Homo sapiens: one gene and its partners. The protein of the gene in region 2 purifies or fractionates together with the protein of the main gene of each other region. This does not show direct contact. Each region holds a gene or a part of one and is shown on either strand. Other genes may lie near its edges.

Evidence for each region.
Region 1: the proteins of ROCK2 (region 2) and DUSP16 purify together in Homo sapiens (affinity purification with mass spectrometry; one large-scale study listed by BioGRID and IntAct). This does not show direct contact.
Region 3: the proteins of ROCK2 (region 2) and TXNDC5 fractionate together in Homo sapiens (co-fractionation; one large-scale study listed by BioGRID). This does not show direct contact.

The regions. Positions count from the first base shown.
Region 1 is NC_000012.12:12,521,332-12,524,984, reverse strand, and holds part of DUSP16 (dual specificity protein phosphatase 16), read left to right. Parts: intron 1-3,521; 5' UTR 3,522-3,653. UniProt on the Homo sapiens protein: Dual specificity protein phosphatase involved in the inactivation of MAP kinases. Dephosphorylates MAPK10 bound to ARRB2.
Region 2 is NC_000002.12:11,198,028-11,201,680, forward strand, and holds part of ROCK2 (rho-associated protein kinase 2), read right to left. Parts: intron 3,387-3,653; coding exon 3,283-3,386; intron 3,117-3,282; coding exon 2,930-3,116; intron 748-2,929; coding exon 654-747; intron 559-653; coding exon 464-558; intron 1-463. UniProt on the Homo sapiens protein: Protein kinase which is a key regulator of actin cytoskeleton and cell polarity.
Region 3 is NC_000006.12:7,886,636-7,890,288, reverse strand, and holds part of TXNDC5 (thioredoxin domain-containing protein 5 isoform 1 precursor), read left to right. Parts: intron 1-707; coding exon 708-794; intron 795-1,440; coding exon 1,441-1,584; intron 1,585-3,653. UniProt on the Homo sapiens protein: Protein disulfide isomerase of the endoplasmic reticulum lumen involved in the formation of disulfide bonds in proteins. Can reduce insulin disulfide bonds.

The DNA of each region.
Region 1 (3,653 bases), on a different chromosome or scaffold from region 2:
CAGGCAGATGGAGGATAATGGTAGAAGAAGGATTATGAATATATTTAGTTTTTTTTTATTTAAATGTATTTGCTGAAGTTTCAATATCGTGGCAATTTTAAACACCTTTATTGATGTATAAGTGACACAATAAACTGTACACGTTCATACTATGTATACATTTTTAGACTTTTTTTGAACCATATGAATATATTACCTATTTAAAAATCTAAAGAAAGTATTTCAACTTTAGCAGCTGGCTAAATAAATAGATAAATAGCAAAGCTGGTCTGCTCTGGATTTTGTTCTATGGACTTGAGCCTTTGTGGTTCATTGTAAAAATTTTTATTCCCCTTGACTTATAGAAATTCTGGGTAAGATTAGCTTGGTGATGTTGCAAGCAAAATATTCTCTTGTCATCTTTCAAATCTTACCTAATGCAAAGGATTTTGAAAACAAAACAGTAACTACAGAGAAATTTTTAAAATTAGACTCATAGCCAGTGATGGAGATTTAACCAAAATTCTCTAACTGTAAATGAAAGAGATTAAGGCCATTGTTACTTTACCCTCCATGATCCCTTGGCAGGGCTCTGCCTCTCACCTCACCCATTTAGCACTACAGAGAATTAGACCTTGGGCATGAAGTCCTACCAGGAGGACTCCAGCTGGCCTCAGTACAGCACTGAAAGAATGGAACTTCACCCTCACTTCACTTTTACCCCTATGCTTCACTTACATCCTCAGCTTAGAGTCACTTTGACCAGAGCCTTTCTTGGTCAGGGAAAGGGTCTTTTTATATCTGTAACTAAGCTCTGATTCTCTGGGCAAGAATGACATTCTCTGCTCTGTAGAACTGTTTGTTGTAACCTGTCTTTGGGTTTATGAGAATTGGCTGAGGGGAAGCAAAGATGAGAACTTTCTAATTCAACTTTTGCATGTTTGCTGACTTCTCCCTCCTTTTGTCCCTTGATCTGCTAACCCAGATAACTGCTTTGTCCCATCCGGATTTTATCTCTTTGAGAGGAGCCAATCAGACTCAGAGACCCAGTGCCATTGTTGGAATCAACTTGCTCTTGTTCTCGGATTTCCACTTTCTGTGCCACCTGGGTACCCTCATGGACAATTGGCATCATTCTTTCCCAGTCCAGTTCCATTATGGGAACAAGTACTTAGGGAAAACAGGGCAACCCAGTAGTAGAAGCCCTGGTTTGGGAATCAGACAATCTGAATACAGGACCTTACATTGCCGTGAACTCTGTCACTGAGCAGGCAGAACCTGATTGAGTGGTATGGCTTTGGTAGGCGCTTTGCAGAAGTTTATTAGTGGATTGACTAGGACAAATTCTCTCTTATAGTTCCTTCAGTTGAAAATAGAGATGACTTTTGTACTTCATTACCATAAAGCTATGCTAAAAATAATACATTAATGAAAGTTGTTTCTTGGAAAATAAGAAATGGAAATATAATGTATTAAATGGAGCTGGTTTGTAAAATATGGTGTGGTTGAGACAGTATCTCAGGTGCCTTCTAACTCCCTGTGTGTCAGCCTCTGTGAGAAAGGGCACAGTTTGGTTGCAGCTGTACTATAGGAGGATGGAATTACATCTGTTTTTATCTGTGAGTGATGTCTTTCAGATGCCAGATGCAAGCCAGCTTTGTTTGCCATTGGCATCTGTAGGGTATTTTTCCTCCTGTCTATGATGCATAGTTGCTTTTTTATTTACCAGCTTTCAATAAATTAGATAATTTTGTTCTCAGACCAAATTTGAAGAGATGAGGCCACTATAATGTCTCCATTTTGTAGGTGAAGAAACTGTGGTTTAGAGAGGTTATGTGATTTGTCCAAGGTTGCATAAGTAAATGGCAAAGCTACATCTCTTTATATCATGCTCCACCTTCTGTCTCCATGCTTTAGCTTCTAATTTGTAAGTACAAAATTAGGAAACATGATCTAAAGGTTTTTAAAGGCTCTGACATCCTGACCTGAAATCAGCTAATCAAATATTTATTTAGAATCTTAAACTGTTTTTGGAACAAGGAAGAATTTACCTACTATAATAATATATTGAGTATGTTATGTCCAAAGTACTGTAGAAGTAAGAAATATAATAAACTTTTGCAATCAAATATTTACCCTCTAGGCTGGGTGCGGTGGCTCATACCTGTAGTCCCAGCACTTTGGGAGGCTGAGACAGGTGGATTGCTTGAGCCCAGGAGTTTGAGACCAGCCTGGGCAACATGGCGAAACCCTGTCTCTACAAAAAGTACAAAAATTAGCTGGGTGTGGTGGTGCGCGCCTGTAGTCCCAGCAACTTGGGAGGCTGAGGCAGGAGAATCACTTGAGCCTGAGAGGCAGGGGTTGCAGTGAGCTGAGATTGTGCTACTGCACTGCAGCCTGGGTGACAGAGCAAGACCCTGTCTCAAAAAAAAAAAAAATTTACCCTCTAGAAGTTCAGTGCCAGAAGTAGACATGTAGTTTTATGTAGTAGAGGATTTCATATAAGCAGAGATGGACCAGGGGAGATAGGAATCCGAGAGTATTGAAGGTCAAGGTGAAGTCCAAGCAATAAGCGCAAAACTTCAACTAGTGTTAATTAGAAAGTGATTGATTAAAGGAGTTTGGCAAGAAAGGGAAGCACTGGGTTCAGCTTTAAGGGCTCTCTATGTCTGGGTTGCCAACTTAGAGTTCCAGGTTAAGGGGTGAGATTTTTTTAAGACTAGGAGTTAGTGATTCTCTGAAGAATGAAGCAGGAAAAAGTGAAGGATAAGCTTACAGGGCCTTAAGCAACTTGGTGGTAGGGAGATGGCCTCCGGAAGGAGACATGACAGGGCCATGGCTGTGAGCTTCAGCACTTCACAGGCCTAGCTCAGCAGCTGCTGTGACAAACATATCAGTTGTTTTTGTCCTTCCTCTTCCTTAAAAGATAGCTGAAATTTATAGAAACTCCAGTTTTCCTGCATCTTCTCTCCTCCGTGAGGGCAATTTTAAAAGGCTGCTGTTTGCGCCCTGGTACTCGCGTGAGCTCACATGTGCACACACATACACACATATACACCTACCCATTCATCGCAGGAATTCTCAAGCCATTTCAGAAAATATTTTTTTTTTTGTCCTGGTAACACAGGATTGCTAACTTTGTCCTCAGCTGCCATTCTTTGTGGGATTTCAATAAATAAGCAAATAAAATATAGGAAAACTATTTGGAATAATAATACTTCAAGCAGCTTTTTGTAGCCCTTTTAATTCAATACTACAGGTCATTTAGTTCTGAGCCCTAGGTGATTATAATTCATGATATGTCTTGTTTTGTTTTCTTTGAGTTTTTACATTTTGAGGTAAAATGGAATTATCACTAGCACATTTTTCTGAAGCCATACCAATTTGTCCTTTTTATTTGTTTGTTCAAATGAAGCAGTGCATCAAGTATGGAATTAGATTAATGGAGTAAATATTATGAATCATACACTCTCTCTAATCTGACACTCTTTCTTCTTTTTTTGACCTCACGTTTTGTTTTCTGTCTTTCTCTCTCCGCGTAGGCTTTCAGTCCAGTGTAAAGCTGTTGGAGCGCGGGAGCAAAGGTAAAGAATGATGTAATGCGCTGGCTGCTCCAAAGCATCTTTTGTTGTGGAATGGTTATTCCAGTCATCTCTTTATGAATCAAATGTGAG
Region 2 (3,653 bases):
TTCTTTTATTCTGGAGGAAGAACATTTTGCAGTGACATCAAATTAATAAAATATTCTATGTGCAACAACAGTGAAGAGTATCTAGTACCCCACCTGTTCATGCAGTACATATGCAACTGTAGGAGTTGGCAGAGAGTGAACTAACTGACACTTTTCAGGTTGTCAGCAAATGGTCAATCCCAACAGTTCTTAAAAGTAGAAAAACACATTAAATTACAACAATAAATTGAAAGAGAATGTGATTCCAAAAGGAAATATTAAGAAAAATTTTAGTTGCTATAGAATTTAACAATATTAATCAAATCTAACTTCTCTCAACCTGGCAAAAATCAGGTAATTGTGACTTCACAAATATTGGTACATTCGATGACTACTGCTACCAATTTGTAATGCTAGAAGTAAAATGTAAAAGAGATAAACTGAGACAAAATTCAAAATCATATTTAGATTCTATTATACATACTTGAGTTTTGAGTGTTCTTTCTGTTAATAGCTGCTTCTCAAACTGTGCTTTAATAGCTGCTGCGCTTATTTCTTCATCTTTCAATCTTGACAGTTCTGAAACATGGAAAAAAGTTAAAATTACATTGGTAATTACAGCAGCTGATAAACATTAGGTATATTAAAAATAAACATTTTTTGTTAATACATACGCTCTTGAACATCTTTCAATTTGTTATTTAATTCTTCTTTCTCATTTGCAAGATTGGCAACATCACTAGTTAGTGTCCTATTAGTTTCCTCAAGCTAAGAAATGAAAGAGGAAAAAATAATCACATCCCAATTTACACAATTTATGTTATAAAATGATTCAAATGAGAAACATCCTAGAATATTGTTAAACCTCTTATTTTTCTTTTTTTTTTTTTTTTGAGACAGAGTCTTGCTCTGTCACCCAGGTGAGTCTTGCTCTGTCAACCAGGAGTGCAGTGGCGCAATCTCAGCTCACTGCAACCTCCGCCTCCTGGGTTCAAGTGATTCTCCTGCCTCAGCCTCCTTAGTAGCTGGGATTACAGGCATGCGCCACCACACCTGGCTAATTTTTATAGTTTTAGTAGAGATGGGGTTTCACTATGTTGGTCAGGCTGGTCTCAAACTCCTGGCCTCGAGTGATCGCCCGCCTAGGCCTCTCAAAGTGCTGGGATTACTTACAGGCATAAGCCAACACACCTGGCCTGAAGGAAGTTTTACTGTAAATTACGTGTTTTGCCTTTCCACCCATGACTGTATTTCATTATATACACATGAAACAATACACAGTGTGGCTTTATGTGATTTTCTTTTTTTTTTTTCTCTCTTTTTGGAGACAAGGTCTCAAGCTCTGTTGCCCAGGCTGGAGTGCAATGGCGTGCGATCACCACTCACTGTAGCCTCAGCCTCCAAGGCTCTAAGGATCCTCCCACCTCAGCCCCCATGAGTAGCTAGCTGGGACTATAGGCATGAACCACCACACCTGGATAAAAAAAATTTTTTTTTTTTTTTGGTAGAAACAGGGTCTCACTATGTTGCCTAGGCTGGTCTCAAACTCCTGGAGCTCAAGCAATACTCCCACCTTCAACTCCAAAAGTGCTGCAATTACAGGCATGAGCCACCATGCCAGGCTGCGATTTTCTATCTTACTGAATTTATCTTTCTGTAATTGTTTTCACTCAATAGCATATTAAGGCATTAAATTGCTGATACAAATGAAGATCTGATGTAATAGTTCCATCTTCTATTACATTTAATGCATGCATTCATTCATTCATGGACATTTGAGTTTTTGCTAAATATTTATGCTGCTATAAGCATTGTGCCTAAATTTCTATAGTGTATTTATCTTAATGTGGACTTTCTTCTGACTGCATTATGTGAATGCCTAAAATTTACTGGAAACTGTCATACTACTTACTGTACTATGCCATACTAAATTTATACTACCCATAGTGAATAAGAATGCCATTTTCTAGACATTCTTCAGACACTTGAAATTGTCAGCTACTGAATTTCTGCCAAAGTGATGGGTATGAAATGGTATTTCAAAGTTGTTTTACCTAGGCTTTTCCTGAACAATAGTGAGGTTAAGTACATGCTTATATATTTAGGTTTTCTCTTTCAGCTAAGTTTTCTTCCAAATTCTTTAATCTTATCTTACTGAATTGCAGACATTCTACATATACTCTAGATACAAATCCCTTGTTTAATAAATATATTACAAATATCTCCCTTCTGTCATTTGTTTATGCTGTCTTCTGTCATATGCAACTTTTAGATTCTGTTCTGATAGCTTAAAATTTTTATTTTTCATAGTCCTTAAGATAGCTAGAATTTACTTTTGTGTGTGATGTAGTGGGGATTTAATTTTATTCCTTTCCATATAAAAACACAGTTATTCTGAAACCATTTATGAAATGTGTCCTTTCCCAGTGATTTGTGTACTGCCACTCCCATCATATATACCAAGTTCCTGTATGTGCAGAAATCTTTCTGGCCTCCCTTTTCATTTCCACTGAACAGGATTGAATATCCCTGTTCTAATACCAGACTTTTTAATTACCGCAGCATTTCAATAGGTCTAGTTAATTGATAGGGTAAACCTAACTACTTGATATTTGACCTCTCTCTGAAATTTTTATTGCAATTTTTTCAACCTGCACGGAACTGTTTTCCTGGTAGTTTCAAGATTCTTCTGAACTAAGTTCTGTTTAAAAAGAAAAAAAAAAATGACCCTTTCACTTTAGACCTTTAACTTTGAATTCATTAACAGGTGAAGTCACTTTTAGTAAGCTCCTCTGACAACATTGAGAAGGTGGCAGTTAACTAGATTAAAAATCTTGTAGTCAGCATATATAATTTTTCATTTAGATCTGTGATACTTAGTATGTCTAAAGAAGGTTTAAGATATAGCAATTTAACTATAATCCAAAAAAGCACCAAGAATTTGACTTACAGAAGCAATTGTAGCATCTTTTTCCGTAAGTTCCTGTTTGTGTCTAGCCATCATCTCTTTGATCTCCAGCTCTTTCATGATCTTCTCTTTTTCCAAATCAGAATATTGTTCTTCAGCAATTGAACGAGCCAGTTGCTCAGAATCTGCTTTGGTCAAGGTGATCTCCAGTTGGGCAGCCAAAGAGTCCCTACATTTTAGCAATATATCATTTTAATGGTTCAGTTTTCACTATGAAGTGAAAGTTTTTGTCTAATTCACTTCATCAATAATTTTTTATTTGGTGATTACCAGGCATTGTTCTAGGAGCAAAGTATACAGCTATGAACAAAAAGAGACAAGGGTCTCATACTTACCGTTCATCCTGTAATTCCTGTTTCTTCTGCTGCAATTCTTTACCAAGTTTGGTCTTTTCTTCACATTCTTCTTTAAGCTCCCTAACTTGTGTTTTATAAAGGGTCTAAATAGCAAAATACAACAGAAATGCGTATCATCATCAGAAATATTACTTCTACATTCAAAAGCTATTCAGACAAAAAGGAGAATGAACACATACAAATATTTTCTTACTGCTAAGTCCCCGAGCAAATGAATAGTTTAATGAACTTTCCTATTTCTAGTCATCAATTAACTAATACAAGTTCAGGTAATAATTAAGAAGCATGATTTTCAACTGGATATCACAGTGATATTTCTCATTTAATAGCACAGATAGGTAAAATGAATA
Region 3 (3,653 bases), on a different chromosome or scaffold from region 2:
AGTGAATAACAACTTAGTCCTGCCTATTTTAGTGCTGGTAGAAAATAAAAAAGAAAGCAATGACTTAGAACAAGATGTTTCATGAAAATGTTGGGCAAGCAGCAGCTTTATGAGATTTAAATGAAAGAAAAAGCTTGAAGAGCTGTGCTTGTTGGTAAATTAAGTTTATAAAATTAAGGACGGATTATAATCTTGACATCTTTGCAGTCTTACCTTTATTATATACCAACTACTCCTGTTTAAAATTCACTTCTTGCTCCCTGTTGATTTTAAAACCCTCTAAGCTTCAGCATGAGAGTAAATTCTAAGCTGGCATGTGAACTGGTCTGGGTCCCAGTCACCGACAGCCAGGCTAACCCCCCTCCCACCACCACCAAATGTCAAGCCAGGGCCCTGACTCAAGCTACCAGGTGCTGACTTTACTTGCTCGAGTTAAAATGTTGCTTCCTAAAAACCGGCATGTTTAACTGAGCTATTAATACAATAAATCTTGCCTCTAAAGTCTTTCCTTTACTCCTTTTAGCTCAGGTATGTTTTAGCATAGCTTTCAGGAACATTCTCTTCAAAAACTGCACCTTGCTGGCAGAGTTGCTACAGAATGTGGATTTTGAAAAGAATATTTGTAACGTACAAAGTGTCCAGTAGCCCCATTAGCAAGAAGGTTCATGAAGAAACTGACTGGGAAGTTGATCTGCTTTTATTCTCAGGTTGATTGTACACAGCACTATGAACTCTGCTCCGGAAACCAGGTTCGTGGCTATCCCACTCTTCTCTGGTTCCGAGATGGGAAAAAGGTACGTCTGCACTTCTTAGTACTGAGAATTCTTCATCTCTTAACCCCATCAGGCTGAGCTACTGAGTGGTTTAATGGGCACAGTGAATTGCCAATCTTGATTGTTAGGGCACTGGTTTGGAGAAATGTGTATAATGAAACAAACGTCTTTCTCTTAATTGATAAGATTTGGGTTGTGGAGATGAACCTTGAAACATTTCAGTGGCCCAGGTTATCACTAGAATAACCCACATCTTACAGTCACAGGGTAACTGTGCTCTGGTTGTAAACACAAACCTTCAGGCCTTTGAACAGAGCTAAGGCTTGCACTTGGTCCGGTTCTGCCTGCCTCCCTCCCTCCTTCCCTGGCCGATGGTCAGCAGCTCAGAGTTCCCCATCAGCACAACGGCTTGCTGGCAGGCCTCTGCCCCAGACTTCTGTGATGTGTAACCCCGTGGAGGGAAGAGGGGCCTGTACAGTTCTCTCACCAAAGCCGAGGCATTCAGTTATCCTCTCTACATTCCCGTCTAAATATGAACATGCAGACTTTGCACCACCGCTAAGACATCTGGGAGCTCTGACCCGGGCAAGCAGGGGTTGCAGGAAGGCTTAAGTGATTCAGAACACCTCAGTGGACTCACTCAGCCGCGTGCCCGTGTCTTGGCCAGGTGGATCAGTACAAGGGAAAGCGGGATTTGGAGTCACTGAGGGAGTACGTGGAGTCGCAGCTGCAGCGCACAGAGACTGGAGCGACGGAGACCGTCACGCCCTCAGAGGCCCCGGTGCTGGCAGCTGAGCCCGAGGCTGACAAGGTGGGTGCCTGCTGGAGTCGGGATCCCCATAAGTGGCCCGTGGCCCCCGGCCCCCCACCTCCCCACCCTCAGAGGCCTCCTCAAATGCTTTGGACAAAATGACAGTTTGGGGACACAGTCATCTGATGGTTGGCTCCAGTTGCGTTTTCAACACGTATTTTTCATCGACTTTCACATGCTTTCAGGGGCGAATGCAAACAAAAGCTTTCCTTTTGAAAACATGAAATGGATGTGAGACAAATCCCAAGACAATATTTGGTGTCAAAAATCTCTAGAGAATCCTTCCTTTCCGCTTCATTCATTTTAAAGAATGACTCTGCTGGGCATGTTTCTGCTATGAAATCTCGACTGCTGGCCCCGGGGCCCTGATTCTATTCCTGACCTTGCTCCGGGCATTTTCCTTTACCCGTTGTAAAGGCCCCTAGAAGACCTGTAGCCAAGAGGGCATCCGCAGCGATCAGGCCAGTGACTGTAGCTGTAACCTGCCTAGGCAGTCCTGATGCACTGAGGGGCTTCCTTCCTTCACTCAGGTAGCAGGAGGTTTCAGATTCATTTGTTCTGCTTTATGAAGCCCTTGTTATGTCACAGGCACTGTTCTAGGCCACCAGGGAATAAAAATAAGACCGGTTTCCTGCCTCTGAAGCATACAGGTCTCTGAGGCAAATGGTGAGAAGACACACAAGCCAATGGCAGGGGGCTGGGGCAGAAATGTGTGCAGGGCTTGGCTGCTAGAGAGAAGTGGGGGCAAATGGGCAAGAAGTGTCCCTAAGGAGCTGATTGACGGGATCTGTGCTGGACAGATAGGCTGGGCAGGGCTGCCACTGAGGGGCTGCACCAGGAGAGGCACAACCCGAGAATCAGCCGGCATTTCTGCAGGGCCAGAGCTGGGGCTGGGGGAACACAGTGGGAGACAGGTCAGGGTGTGGTGTAGGATCCCTGAGAGTGAGAGAGGAGCTGGAGTTGAGAGTCTGTGGGCAGCTGGCCAAGGATTAGGAACTGTATCCCATATTGACAGGGAGCCCATGGAGGCTCTGTGCAGATTGGAGTTGTAGGAAAATGACCGGCATGCACGTGTGCTGGAGGTGGGAAGCTGCTCTATTAGGCCTTTAAAGATGATGCGTTCCCTCATGCTGCAGCCGTGACTGTGCGATGGCGAGGAGGAGAAAGCCAGCATAAGGAGTCCAGCCGCTGTGCAGCGCGGAGAGGGAGGGAGGGTCCGAGGCGAGTCTGATTCCCGCATATCTGGTGGAGGATGGTACCCAGCACAGGGGCGGGGCCAGAGCTCGAGGAAAGGGATGAGCTTGGTTTTCAAGGTGTTGATCTTCAAGGCTTTCGGCTGTGTAGGTGGCAGTGTCCAGTGGCAGTTCCAACCATGAGCCTGGGGCTGCGGCAGGAGGTCTGCACTGGACGAGAGTGCCCGTGTCATCCTCTTCAGGTAGAAGTCATGCCTGAAGGCCAGGAGTTTGGATTTGGAAAAACCAGTGGGGCCACCAACCCCTCCTCCCTGGTGGGGCCACACCAGGCCTCCTCACCCCTACAACCCTGTCCCTAGTTGGGCTCTTGTAGGTCGGGGATGGCCTGAGTGTTGTTTAAAAGTTGACGTTTTGGTTGAAGAAGTAAACAGCTGATTTTGTAGTTGTCAGGACCACTTATGTTAGAGGAGTGTATGTGTCATGGTGGTTACAAAGGTCATCCCAAATTGAGTATAATTATATACCACGGATGTTTTCATCGCAGCACCATTTCTATTTATAATGCAGTTTTCCACCATGAAGTGGGTCTTTTCAGTGCGTGTGGCGTCATGTTTCTGGACATAAAGATGGTAGTGTTCCACAGTGGCCCCCTTGGCCTCCGTCACTGACATGTTACTCGATGCCAGACTCAAATGGAGCAGCCCTGGTACACTTAGCCACGTGATAAATCATCCCATTCCTGCTCTCAGGAGAGAATCGCAGATCCATTTTTGGAGAAACACATAGACGTCATTCTGTAAAGAACTGTCAAGGGAGAATGGCTTTAAAGCAGACTACCATGTAGCACCTTTCCCTTAAATTCTCCAGCCAGAGCTT